4 linked regions of the Homo sapiens genome follow. The protein of the gene in region 1 purifies or fractionates together with the protein of each later gene. This does not show direct contact. Each region holds a gene or a part of one and is shown on either strand. Other genes may lie near its edges.

Region 1 (3,500 bases):
GCAGTCGCTGTGGATCCCCTTGGGCTTGGCAAAGCAGAGAGGGGAAGCCAGCAGAGCACACACACTCTGTTGGAAGAATCTGCAGGATGGGTCCATTGACTGCATGTGGAGGGGAGAAGCTTGCAGGACCTCTCTGGAGCTGCACCAGGGGTCACTAGGCAGCTCTCTACGGTGGACGCGGGAGCACCCCAGGAGGAGCAGCTGGGGGGTGTGGGGGGTGGGCAGGTCGAGTGTGTCTGAATACACTCAAGGAGCAAAGAATCCCACTGGCCTTGGGAACAAGTGAAGCAAGTATCAGGAATGAACGTGAAATTATTATGAGACAAAACTTAGGGGAGCACGGCCTGCTTTCCTAGCGCTCTGGTTAAATGACCAACTAATGGAAAACAAGATGCCCACCAGTGTGCAGTGCTAGCCTGTGGGGGTCCCTGGGCTGAGCTGAAAGCTGCCCCATCACCAGCATACCATCGGCTGCTTCCTCCCTCTCCAGGGGAAATCCCTCTCCCTGCAGCCACAGGCTTGGGCCAGGCTCTGGGACCCATCAAGGGATGGGGGGTGCAGATCAGATCGTGGGACTCTCAACCCTGTCCCCAGTCTCAGTGAGCATTGGGAAAAAAGGAAGACGAGGACCTGATGCCAACGTCAAGCATCAGCTAAAATGAAACCGGTCACCAAAGAAGGAAAATGACACCTCTCAGCTCCCAGCCTTTCTCCTCCTCTGGGAACACCGGTTGGCTGAGGCCCTCATTTGTTATTTAAAGGAATACCAGCACAACTTCCAACCCGGCAACTGCCACTAACTTCCAAACCATCGGACTGGGACATGGTACCAGCTGCTGCTTCTCTTTTATGTCTTGTTAAGAATCAGAGTTATGATTTGTCTGTTTCCGATTGCTCAAATGTGGCCAGCTTGCCGCCCCTCCCCTACCAGTGTGGCCTCCCTCCTCCGGACACTCTGCCCCGGGGCGCTGGCGAAAGTCCTTCCGTAGGACTCAGACCCACATCCACTGTGCAACCGTGTGAGGCACACCCTCCTCGCCGGAGGGTTTTGAGGAAATGACAATTCGGGTGTTTAGAGGCCAGCCATTCGCAAGGGTCATTTTTCCACATTAAGTAGACATTCTGAGAGTGAACTCTCTAAGCCAAAGCTGACTGATAATAAACACGTATTCTGAGAACAATGTCAATCAAAGGAAGGCTGAGTAGCTTATTAAGTGGAAGCTCTGAGCCACTCCACAAATAGTGTTTTCTTTTATTTGCCCAAAGGGCTTAATACATAAAACCCCGGTGACTTCTGATTGCAGAGTGAGCTCATTGGCGACTCTAACAGCTACGGGCTGGCAGCAGTGCACACCCCTCCCCAGCGCACCGAGTTCAGCAAGTACTTTACTCTCCCTGCCCCGGGCTCTTTCTGCAGAACGGAGACCCCATTTACCTTACTTTAAAAGAAACAACAAACAAACAAAAAAGGGCCACTGCTGCTAGTTGGCTCCTGAAAGCGGATCCCGGCTAGAATCTCCTAACGGAGTCCACCCCAGCTTTGCGCAACTGCCTGAAGGGAGCCCGGCACGACTTCCCCCTTCCATGGGCCACACATTTGAGGGCACTTTCTCGAGGAAAATCAGCTGTCCTGGAAAAAAAAAGTCATTGTTTCCGTGGACAAAAGTGTTGTGACAGCATGATCCAAACTGGCTTGGGGTAGACAGGATTCCAGCTGAGGAAGGGGGTCCCGGGACCGCCCTGTGGGAGATCTGAGGCCCAGGAGTGGGGGTGGGGCGGCTCCCTTGCCTACCAGCCTGGATTTCGCTCAGAAGCACCAGCATGTCCTCAGAAACTTTCCACACTGTTTACCATCCAGTAACCACTGGGCCAAAACCCACACGACCCCGCCTTCCAGCCCCTCTCCAGGTGCTCCCTAGGCGCACATCTGGGAAACTCCAGCGGCTTTAGGAAGCTCCAGCCCTTCTGGGGTCGGGTGTCGCCCGGCGGCATTTGCAATTCAATAAGCCTGAAAGGGCCTCTTTGCAACAAGCTGCAAGAAGAGGCTTTTCTGATCAGGGAGGTTAAGAAGTGCTCAGGTACTCGAAGCACAGAAAGAACCCACCAATTGCTTTTGAGCAATGGCACTATTTTTTTTAATACATTTTTTTCTCCTAAGCAGTGTTTCTGGCTTATTTTAATGATTCTGGCTTATTCTGATGACCACACAAAAGGAACTGTAGATTTATTACTATTATCATTTTAACACGTGGAGAGATGCCGAATCCAGCCTAGGTGCTGGGGTGGCGGCCAGGGAGCACAGAACATCACACAGTCACATTCGCACCGTCTCCAAATCGCATTTCTTACTGTTGACAGTGAAGTCAACGTTTCTGGGTTGACCAGAAGCCCCTCTCGTCGGTGTTAATTAAAACACAACCTAAAAACTGTGCCTTGCTCCAAGCGCAGCTACGCTTAGGCACAGTTCAGAGGGGGTGGCATCCTATTCCCCTCTCCTTCGCTGCTGGTGAAAGCGTTGCTAATTCTGCTTCCACGCAGGAACGGGAAAAGCCCCCCCTCCCCCGCAAAAGTGTCCTGGGTCCTGTTTTGGGTTCCACATGAAAAATCTCTGGGCATTAATTAGGATTAACTTGGGGTTCAACTTTTTAAAGATACGGTGAGTAGCACTTAGATGAATTCGGTTTTCTCCTCATTTAGGGCTAGCCAAAGTGTATTTCGCCCTCCCAGGGAGGCCAATGGAGTAGCGAGAAATACGAGAAATATCATCACACCAATCATCTCTAAAAGGAACTTCTAAAGAAGTCCCAAGGTTCTTCTCCAGGCTCAGAAATTCCAAAGACCTGTGGACCAGGCCAGCTGCGGTTTCCCCTGCAAGCACGCATCCTGGAAAGGGGGAAAGAACTGCCCCGGGACATGGTCTTGTGCAAGCGGAGAAGCAATAAACGAAGGGAAAAGTGAGAAGCAGGGAGGTGGGGGAGACGGTGAGACCGCTCAGGTAACAAAGAGCTCCGAAGGAGAAACCTAGCAACTACCTTCAGGAAAATGCAGCCGGAAAATGTGTTTCATCATCTGTTAGCTGATGCCTCTCAGCGAGGCCTTCTGCACACCAATCCAATTATGTTCCCAGGGAGCCTCGGAGGGGTTCCCACACGGCTATTTTTAAAACTGACAAGAAACGGGCTTGTCCAATCGTCAGCTCTGTTGTTACAAACCTGGGGTTTGCTCAGGCTCGCCCCGACCAGCCAGGGCTGAATGTGGCAGGAGCGTCTCCCAGCCGGCGCCCCGCAGGCACTGGCTTCTTCTGAGCATCCCCTTAGCTGGGGGCTGGTAGGGGAGGAACGGGGCCTTTGGGATCACTTTATTCTCTCCAAACTGGTCACAGCACCCATCCCTACACCCCACCCTAGGCCCTGTGACCCCCACAATGAGGGTCAGCCAGGGAGGCCAGCTGCCTCTCCAAAGCCACCCCACAGGACCCTCCGAGGCACCGAGCCCCATGA
Region 2 (3,500 bases), on another chromosome or scaffold:
GGAAACCAAGACTCAGAGAGGTTAAGTCACTCGGCACAAGTCACACAGCCAGAGCTGACAGAGCCAGGACTCACCAGGTAGAGTGGTCACCTCAGATGGTCATACAGGTTGGGGAGGAGGATTTAAGGCAATACAAGTGTCCACTATTTATGAGAGCCTGACCATGAGCTGGTCTGATCCAACCTATTCTTCCCAAATAATCCCTGCAAACAGTGGTATGATTCCGGAGGTCAAACTGAGGTTCAGGGTAGTACATCTCAGATTTCTTCATGCAAGCAGATCCGCTGGGGATTTTGTTAAAATGTTAAAATGCAGACTCTGATTCAGTCATTTCAGGGTGGAGTCTGGAGTAGGGGGAGAGGTTCTGCATGTCTGACAAGCTCCCAGGTGGGCCCTGATGCTGCTGTTCCACCAGCCACACTTTGAGTGTCAAGGAGTTAGAAAACTGAAGCAGGATGGGTGCGGTGGCTCACACGTGTAATCCCAGCACTTTGGGAGGCCAAGAGGGGAGGATCACTTAAACCCAGGAGTTTGAGACCAGCCTGGGGCAACATGGCGAAACCCCGTCTCTACAAAAAATACAAAAATTAGGCTGGGCGTGGTGGCTCACGCCTACAATCCCAGCACTTTGGGAAGCCAAGGTGGGGGGATCACCTGAGGTTGGGAGTTTGAGACCAGCCTGACCAACATGGAGAAACCCTGTCTCTGCTGAAAATACAAAATTAGCCAGGCGTGGTGGCGCATGCCTGTAATCCCAGCTACTCAGGAGGCTGAGGCAGGAGAATCGCTTGAACTCGGGAGGTGGAGGTTGCGGTGAATCAAGATGGCACCATTGCACTCCAGCCTTGGCAACAAGAGCGAAACTCCATCTCAAAAAAAAAATACAAAAATACAAACATTAGCCAGGCATGGTGGTGTGTGCCTAGGATCCCGGCTAATTAGGAGGCTGAGGTGGGAGGATCGCTTGAGCCCAGGAGGTGGGGGTTGCAGTGAGCCGAGATCACACCACGGCACTCCAGGCTGGGTGACAAAGGGAGACCATGTCTCAAAAAAAAAAAAAGAAAGAAAAGAAAGAAAACTGAAGCAAGGCCAGAGCAAGAAGGGATGAGAAACAGAGATGAGATCTGCTGGTTGGAGACAGGAGAGTGAGGTGGGGAAATGAGAAGGATTAGGGAGGAGGGAAAGGAAGGGAGGGAAAGGCCAGGTTTAAAGAGTACCCGCTGGGCCTGCAATCTCCCCAAATCCACACAGAAAGACCAAGGATCACCACTGTGTGTGGAAGCTCCCGCTCTGTGTCAGGCACTATGCCAAGTGGTCACTGTGATTACCTCGTTTCTTCTCCAAAAGAACCCATTAATGTTCCTGCTAGACAGATCAAGAAACTGAGGCTTTAAGAAGAGGTGACTCTCCAAGGTCACCAAACTAGGATGTAGGGGAGCTGGGCCCCAATCTAGGAGGAGACCAGGGATGGGCTTGGGACTCCACCACTGCCCGGCTGTGTCACCTCCACAGAACTCCTGCCCCTCTGGGAGCCTCAGTTCCCTATGCTAAAACACCAGGGTTATCACAGCACTCTCCTCTGGGGCTGTTTCAAGGATGAGCTGGCTGCCCTCAGGGTCTCTCACCTAGAGGTTCCTCTTCTAGGTGTGAAGCCCAGGGACACACTTGCTCACGTGCACAAAAGATAGCAGGGGTGTACGGCAGGGGACAAAGCACACAGCAGGGGACTGTTTAATAAATGATGATGCTAGAAGCCAGGCAGAACACCAGAGCAGGAGCAATTCTGTTTGTTTGTTTGTTTGTTTGTTTTGAGACAGAGTCTCGCTCTGTCACCCAGGCTGGAGAGCAGTGGTGTGATCTTGGCTCATTGCAACCTCTGCTTCCCAGTTCAAGCGATTCTCCTGCCTCAGCCTCTCGGGTAGCTGTGACTATAGGCACATGCCACCACGCCCAGATGATTTTTGTATTTTCAGTAGAGACGGGGTTTCTCCATGTTGGTCAGGCTGGTCTCGAACTCCTGACCTCAGGTGATCTGCCCACCTCAGCCTCCCAAAATGCTGGGATTACAGGCGTGAGCCACCACGCCTGGCCTGTGCTTCGTTTTTAATGAGCACAAGCTTATGCCTAACAATGCAGAAGACCCCACTGCCGTTCCTGCCTTATTTTGCTCCCTGGCTCTTATCAGCCTCTGACATGCTATTTATTTTACATATTGATGTTGCTTTGTGTCCATCTTCCCCCTTAAAACATCAGCTTCCCCCAAAGGTGGGGATTGTTATCTTGGTCACTGCTATGACCCAGGGTCTAGCACACAGTAGGCACTCAATAAATATGGGCTGAAATGAATAAGGGAAGGACAAATGGTGGTAAAAACAAAAAGGTTGGGAAGGATGTGCTTATTTATGAGACAAATTCACAAAATATGGCTTGACTGGTGCATGTGGAAAAGTATAAACACAGATTTGAAGGCTTCTCAGCAGTAGAAGTGAGATCAGGAAGAAAGTGACCACTTTCTTAATACTTTATCTATCATTCTTTTTTTTTTTTGAGGCAGGGTCTCACTCTGTCACTGAAGCTGGAGTGCAGTGGGGCGATTATAGCTCACTGCAGCCTCCACCCACTGGGCTCAAGCAATCCTCCCACCTTAGCCTTTTCCCGAGTAGCTGGGACCAAAGGCATGCACCACCACACCTGCTAATTTTTTAAATTTCTGTAGAGATGAGGGTCTGACTATGTTGCCCAGGCTGTTCTCCAGCTCCGGGACTCAAGTGATCCTCCCACCTCGGCCTCTCAAAGTGCTGAGATTATAGGCGTGAGCTATGGTGCCTAGCTTTATCATTCTTTATAACAAAACGCATTGATTCTATGAATGTTATTAGTATAGGCAAAAATGTAATTTATGTAAGGGAGTTGTCAGCTAAATCAAGAATGTGAAAAAGTCAACAGGATAAATTATTTGATTATTTCCACAAATAAATAGCATTTTCTTTAATGGGGAGGCAGAACTGTTAGAGATTAAAAGATTTAAGAGACATTAAACCAAATGCATAGCGTGTGCTTTGCATATAGATTCAAATAAATCAACTGTGAAAAGATATTTTAGGTCAGGCATGATGGTTCAGGCCTATAATCTCAGCACTTTGGCCAGAAGGGAGGCTCGAGGCCAGGAATTCAATACCAGCCTGGCCAACATAGTGTCTCTACTGTTAAAAATGGAAAACAAGGCCAGGCACGGTAGCTCATGCCTGTAATGCCAGCACTTTGGGAGGCCAAAGCGGGTGGATCACCTGAGGTCAGGAGTTCAAAACCAGCCTGGCCAACATGGTGAAACCCCGTCTCTACTATAAATACAAAATTAGCCAGGCATGGTGGTGGGCGCCTGTAATCCTAGCTACTCCAGAGGCTGAGGCGGGAGAATCGCTTGAACCCTGGAGGCGGAGATTGCAGTGAGCCGAGATTGTAATACTGCACTCCAGCTTGGGCAACAAAGTGAGACTCCA
Region 3 (3,500 bases), on another chromosome or scaffold:
ACATTATAAATGTATTTAAAATCATTGAACACTTAAAAATGGTTAAGAGGGTAAATTTTTTTGTTATGTGTATGTTACCACAATTTTAAATAACTGGGGGACAATCCATTAAAGGAAGATCTGGGGGAAAAAAGTCACAGTGTCTAGATTTCAGAGGACTGGAAGGCCTCCATATTTTTCAGACTTCATGCATATTATTTCCCATATTTTGGTGATAAATACTGGCTAGAAAATTTCAAGATTAGATGGCATCAAGGTGTACAGAGTAATTGCTAACCAAAAGTAGATCCATGTACTTTAACCACCAGCAGAGCAGGATGTGGAGTTGGCACCCGTGTATGAAAGTTGAAGAACCTAAAAGGATACACCTCTACACTGAAGGCCACCCTATTTCCACAGGCATGGCTAAGGATGTATCTATGCAAAGCTACTATTTTTCTCTACTAAACAATTTTAGATCTATACCATCATAGGAAAGAACAGTCATAATAATTTTAATTTTTAAAAACTGTAGGGTGGCTGCTCTAAAATGCCTCTTCAATGTTTAATTGAAAAAAGAATGTATACATATGCAATATTTTAGAGAAGGGTTAAGAAAAAAATGTATTTTTCTACAAGCTTAAAAATTTCAAAATACACAAACCACATGAACTATAAACAAAATTACTGACTAAAAACATGATTAAGTCTATGTAATACTTTCAATTGTCACTTAAATACAGTAATAAGAGTATTTTTTAAAAAGTACCTCACCTGATCTGCATGAATTAGCATCATAAATGCATTCCTTTTGCAACTTGCATCCTTCTCATTCACCAGAAAATCATGTATCAGTTCAGGAGCATCAGGTATAAGATGTTCAAAATTTCTTTAAATAAAACAGGTAACATCCATATTTAATAAAAGCCTACTTTACTATTTTAGTAACTCTCTGGACAATACCAAAATTAAATTTAATCAAACTTTACAACATACTTTTGCTTTTTTTTTTTTTTGGAGACAGAGTCTCACTCTGTTGCCTGGGCTGGAGTGCAGTGGTGCGATCTCAGCTCACTGCTGCCTCCACTTCCAGGGTTCAAGCAATTCTCCTGCCTCAGCCTCCCGAGTAGCTGCGATTATAGGTGCCCACCACTATGCCCAGCTAATTTTTTGTATTTTTAGTAGGGATGGGGTTTCACCATGTTGGCCAGGCTGGTCTTGAACTCCTGACCTCATGATTTGCCCACCTTGGCCTCCAAAGTGCTGGGATTACAGGTGTGAGCCACCGTGCCCAGACAAGGCTAGAGTGCAGTGGAGTGATCTCGGCTTACTGCAACCTCCGCCTTCTAGGTCGAGTGATTCTCCTGCCTCAGCCTCCTGAGTATCTGGGACTACAGGCACGTGCCACCATGCCAGGCTAATTTTTGTTATTTTTTTAGTAGAGACAGCATTTTGCCACGTTGGCCAGGCTTGTCTCATATTCCTGACCTCGAGTGATCCACCCACCTCGGCTTCCCAAAGTGCTGGGATTACAGACATGAACCACCACGCCCGGCCTGCTTTTTGAAACTTCAAATCAATTAGAACTGGGAGAAGGAGCCGGGCGCAGTGGCTCACACCTGTAATCCCAGCACTTTGAGAGGCCCAGGTGGGCGGATCACCTGAGGGTGGGAGTTTGAGATGAGCCTGACCAACATGGAGAAACTCCATCTCTACTAAAAATACAAAATTAGCCAGGCGTGGTAGCGCATGCCTGTAATCCTAGCTACTTGGGAGGCTGAGGCAGGAGAATTGCTTGAACCTGGGAGGTGGAGGCTGCAGTAAGCTGAGATCGTGCCATTGCACTCGAGCCTGGGCGACAAGAGTGAAACTCTGTCTCAAAAAAAAAAAAAAAAAGGAACTGGTAGAAGGAAACACAAAGTTATACCTTCATCTATTAAATTATCAAATTATACGTTTTCTAGTTCAATACAGAAAAAGCTGATTTATTCAACACACCATCTGTTAACCAATGTCTCTAATAACTGTTGTGCATACATTTTAAGCATATCAATATATTAAGAATTACATTAAGAGGAAAAACATAGTCCCTTGAATTTTATTAGTTGTGTACTATTTGCTTACTGACTTGCCTCTTCTTTTGGAAATTTAGAAATATTAGTACAGAGAAGAGTGAACACTAGCTTAATAAAATCCATCACCTTGCTTCAACAATTATAATTCATAGCTAGTTTTGTTTCATCTATATCCTTGCCAAATTTACCTCTTGCCATATTATTTTGAAGCAAATCACAGGCAATGTATCCTTTCTTCTGTAAATATATTGGTAGGTTTCTCTAAAATCAAGGACTCTTTACTTGCAAAACTAATTATTCATCATCACACCTCACAAAATTAATAATTTCCTAATATCAAGACATAGTGTTCACATTTCCAATTGTCCTATAAATGGCCTAATTTTTCTATGTGCACTATAGTTTAAATTCTGAAATTTGTGTAGTCTGTATGGTAACATTAAAGGAACTCACCCTACATTATTATTATTATTATTATTTTTATTATTATTTTTTGAGATGGAGTTTTGGTTTTGTTGCCCAGGCTAGAGTGCAATAGCGCGATCTCGGTTCATCGCAACCTCTGCCTCCCAGGTTCGAGCAATTCTTCTGCTTCAGCCTCCTGAGTAGCTAGGACTACAGGCATGTGCCACCACGCCCAGCTAATTTTGTATTTTTAGTAGAGACGGGGTTTCTCCATGTTGGTCAGGCTGGTCTCGAACTCCCGACCTCAGGTTATCGGCCCGCCTCGGCCTCCCAAAGTGCTGGGATTACAGGCATGAGCCACCACGCCTGGCTCATCTACATTATTAACCAGAATACCACTTTCCTTAATGGATAAAATCTAACAGTAAGATAACTATGAAATTATATCTTAACCAACAAATCTACTAAAGTACAAAGATGCTTATAAAAATTACATTGTAGTCCTTAATAAATTGATACCTGTGACTGTAAAAACTGAGCATTCTAGCTTCATCTAACTGGTTCCTTAAATTGGTTTAAAAATCCAAAATCTCAGCCGGGCGTGGCAGCCTGCACCTACAATCCCAGCACTTTGGGAGGCCAAGGCGAGTGGAACACTTGAGGTCAGGAGTTCGAGACCAGCCTGGCCAACATGGTGAAACCCCATATCTACTAAAAATACAAAAATTGGCTGGGCGTGGTGGTGGGTGCCTGTAATCCCAGCTACTTGGGAGGCTGAGGCAGGAGAATCACTTGAATCCGGGAGGTGGAGGTTGTTGTGAGCCGAGATCGCGCCACTGTGCTCCAGCCTGGGCAACGAGAGTGGAACTCCATCTCAAAACAAAACAAAAACAAATAAAAATTCAAAATCTTCAGCTTTCTAAGAATTGGACTCAGTTATAACTGTAGCCCTTCTCATTTAAAAAGTTCCTTCCTCAAAGCTTCTGACAGTAAAAAGACCGACATTCCACAAAACGAATTCTAAAACAAGGACCAAAGTTA
Region 4 (3,500 bases), on another chromosome or scaffold:
GTCCTTATATGCCAGCTGCAATTCCACGTGTTTAACCCTCACAAAAAGTCCATGAAGTCAGTGCTGCTACCACGCACTGACTACAAACAGGAAAACAAAGGTACAGGAGATGAAACAACCTGCTTGAAGTCACACTACCAAGGCTGGAGGCCTGCAGCAAGGCAGTATGGCTCTACAGTCTGTGCCCACAACCACTATGCTGTACTGTCTGTACACATCTTCCCCACTTGAAAAGGCGGGGCCAGGCCGGGTGCGGTGGCTCACACCTGTAATCCCAGCACTTTGGGAGGCGGAGGCGGGCGGATCACAAGGTCAGGAGATCGAGACCACCCTGGCTAACACAGTGAAACCCCGTCTCTACTAAAAATACAAAAAAAAATTAGCCGGGCGTGGTGGCAGGCGCCTGTAGTCCCAGCTACTCGGGAGGCTGAGGCAGGAGAATGGCGTGAACCCAGGAGGTGTAGCTTGCAGTGAGCCGAGATCGCGCCACTGCACTCTAGCTTGGGCGACAGAGCAAGACTCCGTCTCAAAAAAAAAAAAAGAAGAAAAGAAAAGGCAGGGCCAGGGGCTAACTGCTGCCTGCATACTCTAGTCCCCCAGCACAAAACCTGACATTCAGGCCGACCCATTAAATCAATATTGAACACTACTGAATAAACCAGAGATGGGCTCTGAGAAAACTGGGCAGAAGGCTGGGTAGTACCCCCAAGATACCTGGAAACCACTAAGGAAGTCCTCAACGAGGGGTCCAGTGTAGGCAGTGACAGGCACATAGCTGTTGAGCTCAGCGAGGCGGGGCTGTGATACCTCGGCCCGGTTTTTACCGATGTCCTCCTCCCGCAGGTAGAACTGTAAGGGTGTGCAGTAGGGAAAAAGATGAAATGGCTGTGGCACCGGGAACAGTGGTGCCTCGGGAAGGGGGAAAGGGGGAAGGGTGCTAGGAAGAGGTACCTGGGAGGAAAGATCAGCCCACTGGGCAGTGCCCTGGTCATGTAGGGTAACAGCCTTGACCCCACCAAGGATGATGTTCTTAGCGATCTCCACGCCCAGGCCCCGCAGGCCTGATACCAGGACACTGGATGTCTGGAGCCGCTTCATTGCCTCATGGCCCAACACATACCTGCCAGGTTAGGGGGTACTCTAGGTCAGGGCCTGCCCCACCCAACCTTATCCTCTCAATGTCCCATTCCACACCCCTCAGCCCGGCCTTGGCCCCACTTACAGCTGCCGGGAGTAAAGGCCCTCGTCTATGTCTGCTTCACTGCCGTTCTTGGCCATTCCCTAGGAATAGAGGAAAAGAACAAGTTTAGGGAGACACACAGGAGTGGAGCATGGATAGACAGACAGTGATACAAAAGACTTTCCCACCCACCACCTCGTCTGCCAGTCTCCACGGAGAGGACACTCACGTTGGTTGGCACCGAGGGCACTTCGGACAACACGGACTGGGCAGGGGAGCAGTTAGAACCCGGCTTTGGATCAGGCCCGGACACGCGACGTTTCTTGGACAGCGGCGAGCTGGACATCTGGAGGAAAAAAAGGTCAGAGGTGACCCTGGAGCACATGGGTACCGTTTTTCTGTTTGTTAGTAGCAACTGTGGGGGAAGGGAAGACTTAAGTATTAGTACCCCCATTTTACAGCAAAGAGGGGACAGGCACAGAAAGGTGAGGACTTGCCCAGGGTAACACAGCTGTCAGACCTAAGATCTGAACCCAGGTGGTCTGATTTGCAAATCCACACTGCTGACCACTAAGCCATTTGCTTCTTCCCAGCCCAGCATAATGAGGGAGAGACTCCAATCCTGGAGTGAAAGGAATGACAAGAATGTACTTGTGTCGAGGTCAGGGGAAGGATGTGGATTCAGGACAGACCTGGTTTCAAATCTTGAGCCTGCCACGCACTAACAGTAATAATTAACCGCCACAGGCCTCAGTTTTCTCACCTGTGAAACAGGGGTGATAATACCACTTACCTTCCCCACGGGGTTATCGAGATGATAAATAACACAGAGCATAGAACCTGGCACAGAGTAGGTAGGCAGTAACAAGCAGCCATTCTCCTCTCCCTTAATCCCAGGGATGGCGGCGGGAGCGGGGAGTGCAGGAGGGAAGTGAGGCTTGGACATCCATCAGGGTGGCATGATGGCAGGAGCGGTAACTTGCTGAGAACCCAGTCCCCAGAGGGGCTCAAGTTTTATAAAGCCCAACCCTGCCCCCAGCTTTGGGAGGGGAAAACCGACACAGACCAATAAAAGAGGTTGCAAAAAGATAGAAAACAAACACATCCCAAGCCTCATCTGCATGCGGAGTCCCTTAAACAGGTTAACCACAATGATAAATGAGTATTAGATTGATCAGGAGTCCTCCTTGTGCCAGATGCCATAGTAAGCACTTCTCTAAACCTCGTCTCACTCTGTCCTCAGGGTACTCCTGTGGGGTTTGGACTGCTATCAATAATACCCCCAACTTTAAAGTGATGGAAAAAAATTCACTCAGGGACGTTCGGTGACCAAGGTTCCCACACACTGAGCTGGGACCAGACCAGGATCTGCTGACTCTGAAGCCCAGGCTGCTTCCTCGTGTTATCACGTTTCATCCCCTCCATGACCCTGACCCAGCAAGGCAGAGTTTAGTGTCCTTGCCGGACAAATGAGAAGTAACTTGCCCAGGGTCACCTGCTAGGTCCCAGAGACAGAACAATAAAGCCTGCTGTGGAAGTGAAATCTGGTGGTGGGGGTGACTGGGTCCACATGCTGGAGATGGGAGGACCCAGCGTCACTTCCCCTCACCCCAAGTGCTCCTCTAGGCACTGAGTCTTCTGTTCACACAAGTCCTCCCACACTGAGACTTTTATGACACTAAGTATCCCAATGTACCTAAGATTCCATCTTGGCACTTGTCACTAGCACCAACCACAATGACAAGAGCTCCCTACTATCTACCAAGAGCATACTGTGTGTCAATCAAAGAGGAAAGGGCTTTGTCTAATCTTAACAATCCCCATGACCCAGATAACCCTATGCCCAAATCACAAATGGGAAAAGAAAGGCTTAGAGAACCCCATTCACTCGCCCAGAGGCATGCAGCTGGTGGGGGACTGTTTGCCAAATGCCCCTGGGCTCAGGGCCCAGTCCACAGGGCTAAGGAATGGGAGATGAGGGGAGGCAGCAGGCTGGCTGGAGCCCCTGAGATAGCCAGGTGAATTGCTTAGAATGCTAAGAGCCAACCTGGGTAGCAAGAGGCTTGGTGAGTTAGTAGAGACAAAGGTGAACCATATTTTCCATTTACTGACTCTCTGACTGACCTGGGGTAGAGATCTCATTTCCTCTGAGCCTCATTTTCTCCAAAAGCTGGGACAAATGAAACTGTCTTCAAGGGGCTGCTGGCAGGGTTAAAGAAGCCAAGGTCTGTGGTCAGAACTCACTGACCTGAGGATGTGAGTTCCTCCCTGGGCACGTGTAGTGGCCTCTATTACTTAGTTATCTCCTTGCCTTGTCATT

What was found. The genes of interacting proteins can lie anywhere in the genome.
Region 2: the proteins of RIPK4 (region 1) and PHLDB3 purify together in Homo sapiens (affinity purification with mass spectrometry, with the first as the bait; one large-scale study listed by BioGRID). This does not show direct contact.
Region 3: the proteins of RIPK4 (region 1) and COPB1 purify together in Homo sapiens (affinity purification with mass spectrometry, with the first as the bait; one large-scale study listed by BioGRID). This does not show direct contact.
Region 4: the proteins of RIPK4 (region 1) and UBA1 purify together in Homo sapiens (affinity purification with mass spectrometry, with the first as the bait; 2 studies listed by BioGRID). This does not show direct contact.

Annotation. Positions count from the first base shown.
Region 1 is NC_000021.9:41,760,553-41,764,052, forward strand, and holds part of RIPK4 (receptor-interacting serine/threonine-protein kinase 4), read right to left. Parts: intron 1-3,500.
Region 2 is NC_000019.10:43,480,747-43,484,246, forward strand, and holds part of PHLDB3 (pleckstrin homology-like domain family B member 3), read right to left. Parts: intron 1-3,500.
Region 3 is NC_000011.10:14,489,812-14,493,311, forward strand, and holds part of COPB1 (coatomer subunit beta), read right to left. Parts: intron 869-3,500; coding exon 754-868; intron 1-753. UniProt on the Homo sapiens protein: The coatomer is a cytosolic protein complex that binds to dilysine motifs and reversibly associates with Golgi non-clathrin-coated vesicles, which further mediate biosynthetic protein transport from the ER, via the Golgi up to the trans Golgi network.
Region 4 is NC_000023.11:47,196,829-47,200,328, reverse strand, and holds part of UBA1 (ubiquitin-like modifier-activating enzyme 1), read right to left. Parts: exon of another isoform or gene 3,339-3,500; coding exon of another isoform or gene 3,305-3,338; exon of another isoform or gene 2,127-3,304; coding exon of another isoform or gene 1,974-2,126; intron 1,939-1,973; exon of another isoform or gene 1,873-1,938; intron 1,527-1,872; coding exon 1,410-1,526; intron 1,282-1,409; coding exon 1,223-1,281; intron 1,121-1,222; coding exon 952-1,120; intron 850-951; coding exon 715-849; intron 1-714. UniProt on the Homo sapiens protein: Catalyzes the first step in ubiquitin conjugation to mark cellular proteins for degradation through the ubiquitin-proteasome system.